Regions from separate parts of the Homo sapiens genome. Here region 1 is linked to region 2. A link means that fine-mapping ties the variant in region 2 to the expression of a gene that starts in the linked region. Tissue or cell type: subcutaneous fat. Region 2 holds a variant in brackets; the other region holds the start of a gene. All regions are shown on one strand. Distances are between the middles of the regions.

What was found. PIP is the estimated chance that this variant, and not a neighbour inherited with it, causes the effect.
Region 1: it holds the start of FLVCR1, and the variant in region 2 is fine-mapped to the expression of FLVCR1 in subcutaneous fat (GTEx, PIP 0.91).

The regions. Positions count from the first base shown.
Region 1 is chr1:212,853,629-212,861,628 of GRCh38, reverse strand. It overlaps FLVCR1 (FLVCR choline and heme transporter 1), which reads right to left and starts at 3,354. Exons shown (of 10, transcript NM_014053.4): 1 at 2,439-3,354. The coding sequence starts at 3,176. FLVCR1-DT (FLVCR1 divergent transcript) reads left to right here and starts at 3,491. Exons shown (of 2, transcript NR_027286.1): 1 at 3,491-3,863; 2 at 4,711-5,025. It also overlaps the pseudogene RPS28P2. RefSeq lists silencers at 2,904-3,113, 3,194-3,253.
Region 2 is chr1:212,883,549-212,891,766 of GRCh38, reverse strand. It overlaps FLVCR1 (FLVCR choline and heme transporter 1), which reads right to left. Exons shown (of 10, transcript NM_014053.4): 5 at 6,371-6,474; 6 at 3,766-3,876; 7 at 3,173-3,278; 8 at 2,510-2,621. Among named protein-coding and RNA genes, the nearest start is that of FLVCR1, 29 kb to the right of the region's middle. The variant A/G (reference allele first, on the strand shown) is at 3,801.

The sequences.
Region 1 (8,000 bases), 30 kb after region 2:
GGTAATTACAAGAGAGGGTGGTAATACAGTACTGTGATTGAGACGTAAACAGTGCCAAGACTGGGGAGACCACGTAATTTACTATCCATCTAGAATACTCTTCAGAATGAAAGGGACTTCATTAGTAATCATACCAGACAACAGGTGTACCACCTGGACTATCCCAAGCAAACTGGGACATATGATCATGGTAGCTAAGAGAGTACTTTGGGGGAGCACCTTATATAGAAATATTATTCAGCTATCAAAAAGAATGAAAAGAAATGGGGTTCAGAAAAAGTTCCTGGAGGAGCAAAGATCTGAATAAGAAATTGGAGTTAGTCAAGTGAAGAAATATTCCAAGCCAACAGGACATTACATACAAGGCCAGGAGGGAAAGGGCACGACCTTGTGAGAAACTATAAGTAGGCATAGTTCTGCACAGAGCAGAGAAAGCATATGTCTGTGGGGACAGGGGTTGTGCATACAGATAAAGTGGAAGGGCTGGCAGGAGGCAGATCTGGAGGGTCCCATATGTCACACTAGAGTGTTTGAATTTTATCCTAAGGACAATGGAAGCCACTGCAGGGGGTAAGGATGTGCCCGGAACAGATTTGCACATTGTAAAAGACCACGCTGGATGAATGCGAGAACAGAGGGAAGACAGCAAGGGCTACAGATAGGGAGGACAGTTAGCAAGCTCTAGGTGAGAGCTGTGGGTGGCCCAAACCAAGACAGTGGCATTAGAGATAAAGGGAAATGAGCAAGGAGAAAGCAATTTTGAGTGGTGTGTTCCCATGAGATATCCAAGTAGACTATCCAGCTGGCCAGTATCTGTATGAGTCTGAAGCTCCTTTATTTATTCAACATGGTTTTATGGAGAGTAATAAATGCTGGTGATACAGCTGTGTACATTCAGACCACATTCCTATTTTCATGAAACTTACAATCTAATGGTGGGGATAAGAGAAAAGTAATAGGTAAGTAACATATGAACATGTAAACAATAACATATGAGACAGGGATGAGTGCTATAAGGAGAATTAAAGTAAAATAATGTAAAGAGAGTGACTGGGCAACTCTAAATGGGATCAAGAAATGCTACTGAATATTTAAAAATGAATTTAAACTGAGAGATGTGTGACAAAGAAAATGTAATCATGGCCGGGCGTGGTGGTTCACACCTGTAATCCCAGCACTTCGGGAGGCAGAGGTGGGCAGAGAGCTTGAGCTCAGCAGTTCGAGACAAGCATGAGCAACATGGAGAAACCCCATTTCTACAAAAAAAAAAAAAAAAAACCACACACACAAAAAACTTTATAATAGCTTCTGTCCAAACCTGCAGATGCAACCAACTCAAGTATCAGTCATAAATTATTTTGGACAAACAACTATAGTTCAACCTACTCCATCTTCTGTACTTTTAGATAAGGGAAATGACTATAAAGCAATAAGCATGTAGATTCTCATGCCTTGGCCACCTGAGTAGCTGGAATTACAGGCATGCACCACACCATGCCCCACTAATTTTTGTGTATTTGGTTTTGCCATGTTGGCCAGGCTGGTCTCAGACTCCTGGCCTCAAGTGATCCGCCTGCCTCAGCCTCCCAAAGTGCTGAGATTACAGGCGTGAGCCACCACGCCCAGCCCAGAACTTTTGGTTAGCAGTCATTTATGTGTCCCTTATGTGCCAGGAACTGTGCTGACTGCTAATATATGAAATTAAAAGGGAGCTGTTCACAATGACCTCTCAAAATGGAAACAATCTTCCCAGAACCCAATACCTTCCTTTCACAAATACACTGGTGACAAAAATAATACCCCAAGTCTTGTTCGTTACTGCATTGACAAATTTTCCATGTTAGGCATACACAAGCCAATACAGTTAATTATTATTATTATTATTATGGTTACAGTTTATTATTATTATTTGAGACAGAGTCTCACTCTGTCACCCAAGCTGGAGTGCAAAGGTGCAATCTCCGCTCACTGCAACCTCCACCTCCCGGGTTCAAGAGATTCTCCTGCCTCAGCCTCCTGAGTTGCTGGGACTACAGATACCCGCAAGCAGGCCTGGCTAATTTCTGTATTTTTAACAGAGACGGGGTTTCCCCATGTTGCCCAGGCTGGTCTGGAACTCCTGACTTGAAGTGATCCACCCACCTCGGCCTCCCAAAGTGCTGGGATTACAGGTGTGTGCCACCGCGCCCGGCCCAGTTAATTATTTTATAGGTAATTTTCAAAGCAAGATGACAAGGTCGTTTGGAAAATTTTGTCCTTACAAAGAAATTTATAGCCCACTTCAATCCAAGACGGCCTCCTATTCAACGGCTTCATCTCCTCTTTTATAGACAAATACCTCCTGGGGCAGTTCATCCATACAGGCCATAGTTCTCACGGCCTATGACTTTTTCCGGTCTTTTAAGGATCTGACTTTCACCTACCACTCCAGTACTTACCTGATTGCCCAGCACGGCGGTGGCACAAGCTGTGGACACCTCTTTGGGCCCAAACCACACTGAGGCGATGCGGGAGGGCAAGCCCAGGATGAACACCTGGGCCACCGAGCACAAGCACTGGCCCAACATGGTGACCCAGAAGAGATGCTGCTGCACACTGCCGCACTTGATCCAGGCACCCAGGCAGTTGAGGCCGGAGCCCAGCAGGGCGGTGAGCCGCAGGCCTCTGGTGTCCAGCAGCCAGGTGGCCGGGAAGATGAGGGGCACGTAGGCCAGCATGTACACCATGGACAGCCAGTCGATGTGCAGCAAGGTGACACCGTAGAAGCCCTCGAAGACGTTGCTAATGATGCTGTACTGGATCCACTGAAAGGCGTTGACCAGCGAGTACAGGCTGAAGATCAGGAGCACCACGAAGCGCCGCGGGGAGAGCGCCGTAAGGGGCAGCGGGCTGCTCTCGGCCCCCGGGGTCTCAGCTCCCGCGCCCGCAGGCAGCAGCCGGGCCTGGGTCTCCTCTTCTGGGGCCAGTGGAGTCTGAGGCCCGCCCAGAACTCCCGAGGCGGCAGCGAGGCTGTCCCGGGGGGCCCCATTCACCGGGAAGGTGCCCGCTTTGGGCCCGTTCTGCAGCTCCACGCTCTCCTTCCCAACGGGCGCGCCCCTCGGCAACGGGAGGTATCCTTTCGCGAGCGGGTGTCCGGGCGCCACCGCCGCCCCCTCCTCATCGTCTGGCCGCGCCATATCCCAGGCTCCCCGGCGCCACCTCGCTCCCCCGCCCCACTCCCCGACTCCGCTCTCCCGGCCCACAGCCCGAGGTCCTCCTGGGGCCCCACCTCCAACCCCTCGGCCCACCGCTCCTTCCCCGGTGGCGCGCGCCGCGAACCGCAATCCGCGCTACCGCGTGAACAGATGAAGGTCTCCTCCCCCGCGCCGCGCGGCAGTCACCCCTTGTCTGGTCCCGCCCCTAGAGTCGCGCGTCCTGCATGACTACGGCCCTCCGGCCAATCAGCGTGCGCCTTTGTCCGGCGCGAGAGCCAGTCGGGGAGCTACCGGGCGAGAACTTCGGGAGGCGGGGGAGGAAAGCGGCCGGCGAGCGCTGGCTGACATTTTCCTGCCCGGAAGGATGCATGGCCCGGGGTCTCCTGCACCTGAGGGTGGGCGGGAGGCGGCCCCGCGGGTTGTGTTGCTGGAAAAAGGGGTCTCGATCCAGACCCCAAGAGAGGGTTCTTGGGTCTACTTCAGGGAAGAATTGGAGGCGAGTCACAGAGCGCAGTGAAGGAAGCAAGTTTATTGGAATCTACTCCGTTAGAGAGTGCAAGTCCTCAGACTGCAGGAGGAGGAACTCCCGTCCTTCGGTAGTGTCACTACTTAGAGGCAGCTGTGAGGAGCTGTGATTAATCGTGGAATGTGCTGATGTGCCCACTAAAGGTAGGGGCTGTTGGTGCACTAATGACCATTAATCCTTCAACCTAAGCCTGCGCATTGACGTTATCTCTGAGTAGAGGGCTGGGCCGGGCTCGGTGGCCACGTCTGTAATCCCAGCACTGTGGGAGGCCGGACAGGAGTCTCCCTTGAGCCCAGGAGTTCGAGACCAGCCTGGGCAACATACTGAGATGCCATCTATTTAAAAAAAAAAAAAAAAAAAAAAAAGCCAGTAGCCAGGCGTGGTGGTGCATGCCTGTAGTCCCAGCTACTCAGGAGGCTGAGGCAGGAGAACTACTTGAACCTGGGAGGCGGAGGTTGCAGTGAGCTGAGATCGCACCACACTGCCCTCCAGCCTAGCCTGGGCGACAAAGTGAGACCTTGTCTAAAAAAAAAAAAAAAACTCAGGACATCTGGACAATTCCGCAGACTTGGTGGGAGATGTCCTGTATGGCCATAAATATTGTGTAATTATAATTGTTGGTCAGCTTAGAATGCGGCTATTTTCAGACCTTTAGCATTAACCTTATAGGTGCCTTGTGAGTGCCTAGTTACTCACTTTAACATGCAGTCGCTCTAGCCATGTTTTATTAAACCAGATGCCTGGTAAGCAGTGGCTCCTCTAACAAGTGGGCAGCTTGGAACTGGGAACGAGAGAGCCACCGAAACAGAATGAGGGAGACAAAGAAGTGGGCATCACCCTTAACTCCACAAGGGCTTCCCAAGGGCGCTGTACCGTACGCAGGCCCAGGACGAACTTTATTTCTCGCCCCAGCATCGCTGTCCTTGTCGGTGAGACCCTGGCTTTAGGGCAGACAGGACCACGTTTCATAAGTTCATGCTGTCCCAGCAGAGGAATAACGCCAGAAAGTGTTCCAGTACAACCAGAGAAAGAGAGTCCATGAGAAATCTGCCCTTGTGAAGTTGGAATCCCCTCAACCTCACCCCGCTGACTTGAATGAAGCGACTGAGACGGGCTATGATGGAGCAGATCCGGTTGCTCGACCTTCTCCCTTGCACCAACACATGTAGTTAATAGTTACTGGACATGCATATTCAGTGGGTTCCAGGTACCAAACTTGTATTGAATGGTATGTGCCAGACACCGTCTTGAGATCTGGAGAATAAAAAAATAAAAAAATAAAAACGAGACATCCAGAGCACAGTAGCCTTGCGGTCTTCCTGGAACTAGAGAAAATTCAGCCCTTCTGCTCCTTGGGAAGCTATGTTTGGGAAAAAAAAAAAAAGAGAGAGAGAGAGACTCCAAAGAGTTTGTTATTAAATTTAAGTTCAAACTAGGTGTATATAGTACAAAAGTTCTTACCATGCATTTAATCTTAAAATGTGCTGATATCTAGAACCCTAAAACCCTGCACTTTTTTATTGCCTCTTACATTATTATTTTGGTCATGTATGAAATATATCAGGCATCTCTCGGTACAGGTGAAATGCTACATGTTCTAAACTAAGGAATAAGTGCATTATTATAATGTCTTCCTTGGCCAAACTGTATAAATCCCCCCCTCCGCCCGCCCCGGCCAACATCCCTTCCCTGCTTTTTTTTTTCTTTCTTTCCTAGTGCTTACCTTCACCTAAAATGTCCTATATTTTTACTTTTTTTTTCTGGTTATTTTCTTTCTTTCTTTTTTTTTTTGACAGTCTTGCTCTGTCACCCAGGCTGGAGTGCAGTGGCGCGATCTCGGCTCACTGCAACCTCCACCTCCCAGGTTCAAGCGATTCTTCTGCCTCAGCCTCCCGAGTAACTGGAACTACAGGCCCGCGCCATCATGCCTGGCTAATTTTTGTATTTTTCTTTAGTGGAGACAGGGTTTCACCATATTGGCCAGGCTGGTCTTGAACTCCTGACCTCGTGATCCGCCCGCCTCAGCCTCGCAAAGTGCTGGGATTACAGGCCTGAGCCACCGAGCCTGGCCTCTTTCTTTCTTTTCTTTCTTTCTCTCTCTCTTTCTTTCCTTCTCTCTCTCTCTCTCGGCTGACCACCAAGCCTGAGTACTTTTTGTATTTTTTGTAGAGATGGGGTTTTGCCACATTGCTCAGACTGGTCTCAACTGATCAGCTCACTTCGGCCTCCCAAAGTGCTAGGATTACAGGCATGAGCCATTGTGCTGGGCCTTTTTCTGGTTATTTTCTCCCTGCCCACTAGAATGTGAGTTCCATAAGGGCAGGGCTGAAAGTTTTGTTGCTTTTTGCTACCGCTACTATTTTTCAAGAATTTGTAACCAGTGTACTTTGTGCGAGTACCTAGCACATAGTAGCTGTTCAATAAATATTTACTGAGTACAGCTAATGAATACTGAATTACCGTGAATATTTTAAATAATTACTTGCTTTGTAAAGAAATCTATTTCTTCTCTCTGCCCAACTGCTGCTGCATCGCCATCACAGACACCAGCCATGTGCAGCCTATCTAGCTAGCCAGGGTCACCAAGGTCCTGGGCAGAACCAGCTCTCAGGGACAGTGCATGCGGGAATTTATGGAAGACACAAGCCACTCCATCATCCACAGTGTAAAAGACCCCATGCGCAAGGGCTATGTGCTCACCCTGTTGGAGTCAGAGCGAGAGGCCTGGAGGTTGCACTGAGCTTGGCTGCTCACTGGGTCTTGGATGTTGGGTTCGACCACTTGGTCCATGAGAATGCTGTGCCATGATCTGCTCCTTTATTTTATTTGCCAGCCGCACAGGAATTGAGATATGCATTTAAATAAAGTGTTTGTGTGCCAAATTAGAAAGAAAAGAAAGGAAAGAGACAAAGAAAGAAGAGAGAGAGAAAGAAAGAAAGAGAGAAAAAGAAAGGAAGGAAGGAAAAAAGGAGGGAGGAGAGAAGGAAGGAAATCTTTTTTTAAATTATTATTATTATTTTTTTTTTTTTTTTGAGACGGAGTTTCGCTCTTGTCACCCAGGCTGGAGTGCAGTGATGCGATCTCGGCTCACTGCAACCTCTGTTTCCGGGGTTCAAGCGATTCTCCCTCCTCAGCCTCTCAAGTAGCTGGGATTAAGGCGCCCACCACCACGTGAAATCTGTTTCTTAAAAAAAAAAAATCTTGGCCAGGTGCAGTGGCTTACGCCTGTAATCCCAGCACTTTAGGAGGCCGAGGCGGGTGGATCACGAGGTCAGGAGATCAAGACCATCCTGGCTAACACGGTGAAGCCCATCTCTACTAAAAATACAAAATATTAGCCGGGCATGGTGGTGGGCGCCTGTAGTCCCAGCTACTCGAGAGGCTGAGGCAGGAGAATAGCGTAAACCCAGGAGGTGGAGCTTGCAGTGAGCCGAGATCGCGCCACTGCACTCCAGCCTGGGCGATAGAGCGAGACTCCGTCTCAGAAAAAAACAAAAACAAAAACAAAAACAAAAAAAGTCTTGCAAACTTCCAGAAGGAAGGGAAGGAGGGAGTGAAATCTATTTCTTTCTCTTTTCCTTTTTCTTTTTTTGACACAGAGCTTTGCCCTTGGAGTCCAGGCTGGAGTGCAATGATGAAATCTCAGCTGACTGCAACTTCTGCCTCCCGGGTTCAAGTGATTCTCCTGCCTCAGCCTCCCAAGTAACTGAGATTACAGGTGCCCACACCCGGGTAATTTTTGTATTTTTAGTAGAGACAGGGTTTCTCCATGTCGGTCAGGCTGGTCTCGAACTCCTGACCTCAGGTGATCCACCTACCTCAGCCTCCCAAAGTGCTGGGGTTACAGGCATGAGCCACCGTGCCCGGCCACCATTCTAATTTCTTAATCTTGTCTTCTTTCTCTGGCTTCAGTGGTAGATATTTATTAACCAGTTTAAACATGAGTCATTATTTATATCAAATGTTTGGATGTATAACGTAAAATGAACCTTAATCTCTGTCAAAAAAGATACTACTGGGAGCATCGTTTGGCTGGGAGTCAAGATGAGATTGAGCTACTTTATGGGTGTGGAATGCCAAGTCAGAGAGATTTGAATAAGTAACACTTCAGCAATATGAGATCTGGACAGCATCCAGGAGCCAAGGTCCAAGATGCTAATAGGAGTGATGTAGCTGTCCCTGAACAAAGGTTTGCCACAGTTTACGAGCCTCAGAGGTTAAGATGCAAACCAGAACAATGCTATTGGATGTGCAATCCATGATGTTTCATGGGGAGGTGG
Region 2 (8,218 bases):
TTAATCATTTTTAGCTTCTGATTTAAGAGGAGAGATTTACTACTCTTCCTTTTGCTTAAACACCTGGAGGCCACTGTAGGGGTAATAATTTGGGGGTATTAATCAGGGCCCTGATTTCAATATTGTTGTGCCTCAGGGAATACCATTTGAGATGGTAAAAGCATCAATGTAAAACTAATTTTAAAGATCTATTTTCACTTCTTAATTTTCTAGACTTGATTTGTTTGAATTAGTATTCATGAATCTCTTGTAAAAGTAATTTGAAGGAGGATTACAAAACTGCTCCCTTCTTTGGTATAACAATAATACTGTTTTTTTTTTTGAGACGGAGTCTCACTTTGTCACCCAGGCTGGAGTGGTGGTGTGATCTTCACCACTCACTGCAACCTCCGCCTCCCGGATTCAAGCAATTCTTCTGCCTCAGCCTCCCAGATTCAAGCAATTCTTCTGCCTCAGCCTCCCAAGTAGCTGAGATTACAGGTGTGTGCCCATAAAACTGGCTAAAGTTTTTTGTATTTTTAGTAGAGACACGGTTTCACTATGTTGGTCAGGCTGGTCTTGAACTCCTGACATCAAATGATCCACCTGTATCAGCCTCCCAAAGTGCTAGGAATACAAGTATGAGCCACCACGTCCAGCCAATAGTAATAATCTTAGATAAGATATAGTACTTGCCTAGGAATTAAGAACCAACATGGAATTACTTATGAAAGAACAATAGTTAAAGCAGTTAATGTATTACATATTTCACAGTTTTGTATGTTTTATTTTACTAACTGGACAGGGGGAAAAACTCCCTGTGATAAGATGTTTTTCTTTGAGGAAACAGAGTGCATTCACTTTCTTTTAGCTTCGTGAATGAATGCTCAGGTTCCTATCATTCATACAATTGAGTGAGCGACCTTAGGTAGTTGTGTATATCCAAAATGTCTATCACTGGTGAGATTTCATATTGAAGGTTTCACAAAGAATGATCAGGTATTCCACAAACAGTAGAAGAAATTCTGATTCACATCCTTCTGATAGATTCTCCAACTAAGTTATAACCAGATCCTCCAACTAAGTTATAACCAGATCAACGAAGCACAACCTCCCTTGGTATCTGCGGGGGATTGATTCCAAGACCCCACCTCAGATACCAAAATCCACGAATGCTCAAGGCCTTTATATGAAATGGTGTAGTATAAGCTTGTTCAACCTGTGGTCTGCAGCCCATATGTGGCCCAGGACAGTTTTGAATGTGGCCTAACACAAACTCACAAATTTTTAAAAAACATTATGAGATTTTTTGCAATTTTTTTTTTTTAGCTCATTAGCTATCATTAGTATTAGAGTATTTCATGTGTGGCCCAAGATATTTCTTGTTCCAATGTGGTCCAGAGAAGCCAAAAGATTGGACGCCCCTGGGAAGTATTTACATATAACGTACACACATCCTCCTATGTACTTAAACCATCTCTAGATTACTAATACCTAATACAATGTAAATAGCTGTTATACTATAATGTTTAGGGAATGATGACATTTTAAAAGTATGCACCTGGAAAAAGTTCTGCTTCCAAATCTATTGTACACCCATGTGCATGGGCAAACTATGGATAAAAATTCTCTGACATTCTCTTTCTCTGGAGATTGAGCACTATTTTCTTTCCTGCCCATGTCTATGATGACTATACCTAAGAAGTATAAGCACTAGCTAAGGATTCCACATACTATTTCCACCACTACCACTTGACTGCTTACCATCTCTACCACATTATAACAATAGTAACACATGTTAGGCACGTCCCAGGTGCCAGACACTAGGAACTTTTCATGAACCATTTCAATTAATCCTCACAGTAACCCTATAAAGCAGGCTTTAACACTCTATTATATAAATAAGGAAAGGAGGATTTGAGAGGTTAAGCAACGGGTCTAAAGTCACACTCCCACTGAGCAACAGAATCGGAATTTGAGGCCAGGTCTTCCCAACTCCAGGTCTTTACTACTCTTTTTTTTTTTTTTTTTTGAGACAGAGTCTCGCTGTTGCCCAAGCTAGAGTGCACTCGTGTGATCTTGGCTCACTGCAACCTCTGTCTCCTGGGTTCAAGCAATTTTCCTGCCTCAGCCTCCCAAGTAGCTGGGGCTACACGTGTGCGCCACCACAACTGGCTAATTTTAGTAGAGACGGGGTTTCGCCATGTTGGCTAGGCTGGTCTCAAACTCCTCACCTCAAGTAATCTGCCCGCCTCTGCCTCCCAAAGTGCTGGGATTACAGGCATGAGCCAACACACCCAGCCTTTACTACTCTTATTATAACAGTTTTGCTTGCTATGCAGAGTAACTGTATTGAATTTGAAATCTGCAAAATGAAGTAAGAGATTCATGTCTTTAGAAGAAAACAAATAATGTCCTGCTTTTTATCTCATTTTTTTCCCCTTGAGTTCTGTCAAGCTATTGAGAAGCAATATATATGAAAATTAACACATGACACAAGTCCTTTTGCCAGGCAAACGCCCTAATTTACCTGTTAATATGATGCCTATAAACATCCAGACACAGAGAAAAATGTTCCCTGCCTTAGGACCATAGTCTGATGTGAGCTTTCCTTGAGCCAATGTGAACAAAATTCCAAATATCTAAAATACAATAAGAAAAATCATTCGTTATTAAGTTAAATTATTTAAAGCAAGTATAAAGTTTTCACCAGAACTTTTCTTATTTTGGTTATATGATTTGGTTTCTAGAAACATTCATTGAAAAGTTGAATTGTTAAAACAAAAACCACGGTCAGGCTGGGTGCAGTGGCTCACACCCACTGTAATCCTAGCACTTTGGGAGTTGAGGTAGGCGAATTGCTTGAGCCCAGGAGTCCGAGACCAGCCTGGACAACATGGCAAAACACCATCTCTACAAAAAATAACAAAAAAAATTTAGCTGGGCATGCTGGTGTGCACCTGCAGTCCCAAAAACTCTGGAGGCAGAGGGGGGAGGATTGCTTGAGCCTAGGAGTTTGAGGCTATAGTTAGCCATGACTGCACTACTGCACTCCAGCTTGGATGGCTGAGCAAGACTCTGTCTCCAAAAAACAAAACAACAACAACAACAAATAAAACCATGGTCAAACTCATTACTCACTAGAATATCTGGTATAATAATCATCTCAGGTTTAGAGAAATCAGAGGTTTACCTGTGCAGAAGCATTAAGAAGACCAGATGAAGTACCTTCAGATTCAGGGTAAGTGATTTCAACAGCAAATTCAAAACCCAAAGGGAGGTAACCAGTCATGAAGAAGCTAGGAAAATAAATCCAGAATTACAGAAAGAACTACCAGAAAGTCACAATCACATACTGATGCAATCATTCTGCCTCTCGGGCTTATTCTAATGACCAAATAAGTGAATATTTTGAAGTTGCTATGTCAAAGTAAGGAACTATTATCATTGACCAATCAGCTCAAGGTTACAGAACTGGAAGCAACAAATACACATTTTTTTCTGAGAAAAATTTACTTCTAGTTTTATAAGTTGATTGTAACCAAATAAAGTTACACAGATTAAGTAAGGCTCATCCATTTTTTACCTATGGTATACCAAAAACCAATTTTAAATAATTTTTAATAGTTCTTAAGAATTACATGTTTATATGCATAGAATGAATCCTTTAAAGTTTAAAATATTGAAGAAACTTTGGATGAACTGAAAAAATTAAAGACCAGAGTAATAATACTTCAGAATTATAACAGCATGCTATCATTCCTCCTAAACACATCTGATACTTACCCAAGCACCCCTCCAGTAACAAACACGATGATAAT[A/G]TATCTAAGGTCCAATGTGAAAGTAAAGATAACCATTCCAATAAAAGACAAAATATAAACTATCAGAGTAGTCTGTCTAAAACAAAAACAACAAAGCTGTTAGTATTTTGTCTGATTCTCCTAGGAATACAAAAATCATCACTCTTACCTGTTCAGTAATGAATCTTTGTTTTTCAAAGTTCACCCCTTCTTGTCCATGGAAATATGTATCCACCAAAGCACAAATTTTAAAGCATTTTTAATTTAAGATTCAGCAGCACCAGAAAACCACACCATATCGAATGCTCAGATAGGATCCTTTTATAGGAATAAAATCATTTTTATGCCACCAAATGGGATAGTTCCCTATTCACATTTCAAGATTCAGATCAAATTCTACCTCTTCCAAATGCCTTCTGTAACGACACCAGTTTATAAGAGTCTCTCTTTCTTCCAAATTCCCTTATCATACTGGCACTATAAAACTTATGACATCTATTTTAGTTTGTTATATTATTTAACTTTTCACATGTGAATGCCTTATTTGCTCCATTTAGACCACAAACATCTTAAGAACAGGGATCACATAATGCCAGCCATAATTTTCATCTAAGAAAGATGCACACAACAGGAGTTTGGTGAATGAATGGCAGTTACCCTGAGAAGGAAGCCACAGTGGCAAAGAACACACATCTATGCCTATCAAGTTTTCTAAATGTATAACGGATGAAAGACTTAAGAAATATAATCCTTTACATATGCTCCCTTCATCTATATATCAAGTAGGTTTCACTCTAAGCTATCATTTTAAAATAATGAAGCTAAGGCAAGTGCTGTCTTAAATTATGGAAGAATATGGAGAATTTCAAGATTAGAGATACTTTTGGTAGCGTTTAGACTAATAATATCAAATATATCTTGAGCCTTGAAAGGTACACGGGACACAGTTCCATATTTCATTCATTTATTCCTTAATAGTTTCATTCATTCATTTCCAAGTACAGGGGTAAGTTTTGGCATGTTACAAAATGTGGTGATTCTTTTCACTCCCAGAGCAAAATATGCTGCCTCTGAAACCCCTTTCTTAGTCTCCCAGTTGGTATCATTCATTTTCTTTGGTATTAGCCTTTTGGTGGTTCCATATAATGTACAATTAACAGAGTATATTCTTTTTTTTTTATTTTTTTAGACAGCGTCTTGCTCTGTCACCCAGGCTGGAGACCAGTGGCACGCTATCTCAGCTCGCTGCAACCTCTGCCTCCTGGGTTCAAGCAATTCTCCTTCCTTAGCCTCCTGAGTAGCTGGGATTACAGGTGCCCACCACCACACTTGACTATTTTTTGTATTTTCAGTAGAGATGGCGTTTCACCATGTTGCCCAAGCTGGTCTCGAACTCCTGGCCTCAAGCAATCTACCCGCCTTGGCCTCCCAAAATGCTGGGATTACAGGCATAAGACATTGTGTCAAACCAGCATTTTCACATTATGCATTATATTACAGTTAAGTGGTACTGTAGTCTGGGCGTACTTTAGCCAAAAAGTTCTTACCAAAATAAAGCCTTATGCTCAACAATAATTTTTTGATTGGAAAGAACTACTTTTTTGTTTTTGTATTTAAGCCCACAACATAAAAAAAGAACAACATAGGCCAGGTGCAGTGGCTCATGCCTGTAATCCCAGCACTTTGGGAGGCTGAGGTGGGCAGATTGCCTGACCTCAGGAGTTCAAAATCAGCCTGGGCAACATGGTGAAACACTGTCTCTATCAAAAAGTCAAAAAATTAGCCGGGTGTGGTGGCGCACACCTGTGGTCACAGCTACTCAGGAGGCTGAGGTGGGAGAATCACTTGAGCCTGGAAAGCAGAAGTTGCAGTGAGCCAAGATGGTGCCACTGCACTCCAGCCTGGGTGACAGAGTGAGACCCCACCTAAAAAAAAAAAAAAAAAAGAACAAGATAAAGTCTATCAAAAGTCAAATATTTCTCAGAAATGGCTCTTTTTAGAATAGAAATAATTCCTTCGGAAGTGGTAGGTATGAGTACTGTTAGAAAGAAGGGGCTCATAAGGTATCCAAGTTCTCAGAATTGAAATAAATGTGACCAATAAAATAATACAATACATAGAGTATTGAAACACTTGTTGCTGGGCGCGGTGGCTCACGCCTGTAATCCCAGCACTTTGGGAGGTCGAGGCGGGTGGATCACAAGGTCAGGAGATCGAGACCATCCTGGCTAACAAGGTGAAACCCCGTCTCTACTAAAAATATAAAAAAATTAGCCGGACATGGTGGCGGGTGCCTGTAGTCCCAGCTACTCGGGAGGCTGAGGCAGGAAAATGGCGTGAAGCCGGGAGACAGAGGTTGCAGTGAGCCGAGATTGCGCCACTGCACTCTAGCCTGGGCGACAGAACGAGACTCCGTCTCAAAAAAAAAAAAAAAAAAGAAACACTTGTTAAGTGAAGAGAACCTACTAGTGTTTAGAATCCGTATCTTTAAGTAATAACATGTTTTAAATTTCTTGAAATAAAAAGCAAATTGTCCTTTAAAATCAAAATACCTTTGGTTATACACCATACATGTATTTACTTTCACTTACTTGTATGTTTTAGTATAATCCAGCCATAAGCCACAAAGAATAGAGCCCACCATTCCAGCTACTACTAGCGTTAGCCCAATCCTTCCAGCATTGACTTCTTCTCCCTGAAAAAAATTTGCGTAAGAAGTTGATCAAATAAATGGATTAACTAATTCAGACTCTTCACATTCCCACACCTTTTCATAGTCAATGAAAATAATTAGATAAAACTAAGCACACAGTAGGAAGATTTAGTACATGTGTCAGTGTGGGAGGGGAGGGCAGGTAAAGAATATATAAAAGCATTATATTTTAAAACCAGAAAAAAAGCCTAAAATAATAGAAGAAATAAAAAAGGTAAATTTTCCTTAATCCTCTATGGTTAGAAGTACAATGATTTTTGTTAGGATTCTTAAGTATAGATAGTCATGTGCTCCATAATTACATTTAGGTCAACTCTGAATCATATATACAGTATGATCCTGTAAGATTATAATACTGTATTTTTATTCTACCTTCTCTGTTTAGATATATTTAGATACACAATACTTACCATTGTATTACAACTGCCTACAACATTCAGTAGCATAACATGTTATACAGGTTTGTAGCCTAGGAGCAATAGGCTATACCACGTAGCCTAGGTATGTAGCAGGCTCTACCATCAGGTTTGCGTAAGTACACTCTATGATATTCACACAACAATGAAATTGCCTAGCGAATTTCTCAGAAGGTATTCCTGTCACTAAGCAAGGTATGACACTGTATAGATATCTGAAAAGGAGGTTAATCGATAGCTTTTACATAGTACAACTGCTTTATCCTTTCAAAAGCAGATACGTCAATCAAAACTTGATATTTATTTATCTATATTTATGCTGAGTTCCCTTAAAATGTTTTGTCTTTTTCCATATAACCAATCATATTATTTCCTAAAAATAAACTTAGGTATTGTCACAGGGATAGTAACTTCTGCTTTCCATATTGTGTGTGTGTGTATTTTGTTTTGTTTCGTTTTTTTGAGATGGAGTCTCACTCTGTCACTAGGCTGGAGTACAGTGGCGCTATCTTGGCTGGGATTACAGGTGTGAGCCACGGCGCCCAGCCTGTTTTTTTTTTAAATGGGGATTCACTCTTATTGCCCAGGATGGAATACAATGGCACGATCTCGGCTCACCGCCACCTCCACCTCCCAGGCTCAAGTGTTTCTCCTGCCTCAGCCTCCCGAATAGCTGGAATTACAGGCATGCGCCACCATGCCCAGCTAATTTTGTATTTTTGGTAGAGACAGGGTTTCTCCATGTCGGTCAGGCTGGTCTCGACCTCAGGTGATCCACCCGCCTCGGCCTTCCAAAGTGCTGGGATTACAGGCGTGAGCCACTATGCCTGGCCATACTATGTGCTTTATAAACTGGATTAAATATGTTAAATTAAAATGATGGGAGGCCATTGTTTTGGAGTGAGCTCCCACAGTAGGCCCAACAGACCAGACCACATAGAATGGTGTCACTAGTGCTAGGTGTCACATAATCAAACTGAACTTTAAAATGGGCCACTTTTCCAAAAAAAAAAAAAAAAGGAGATTCATAGCAACCTATCAGATGGGGCCCAGTCCCCTTTGTTTTACTCCTATAAGGAAAGTAACTTTGTAGCAACCAATCTGCTCTTTGTTCCTTGTTTCTGCTTTCTTCAGCCTTTTTCTGCCTATAAAGCCCATCTCCTCTGCTCAGCTCATCAGTACCTTTCTAAATCTTTAGATGGGATGCTGTCCAATAAACGAATTGATAATAAAAGCCAATTAGATATATAAAGTTGTGGAAATTTCATTTTTTAACAAATATATTCTCAATTAAAACAAATGTAAATATT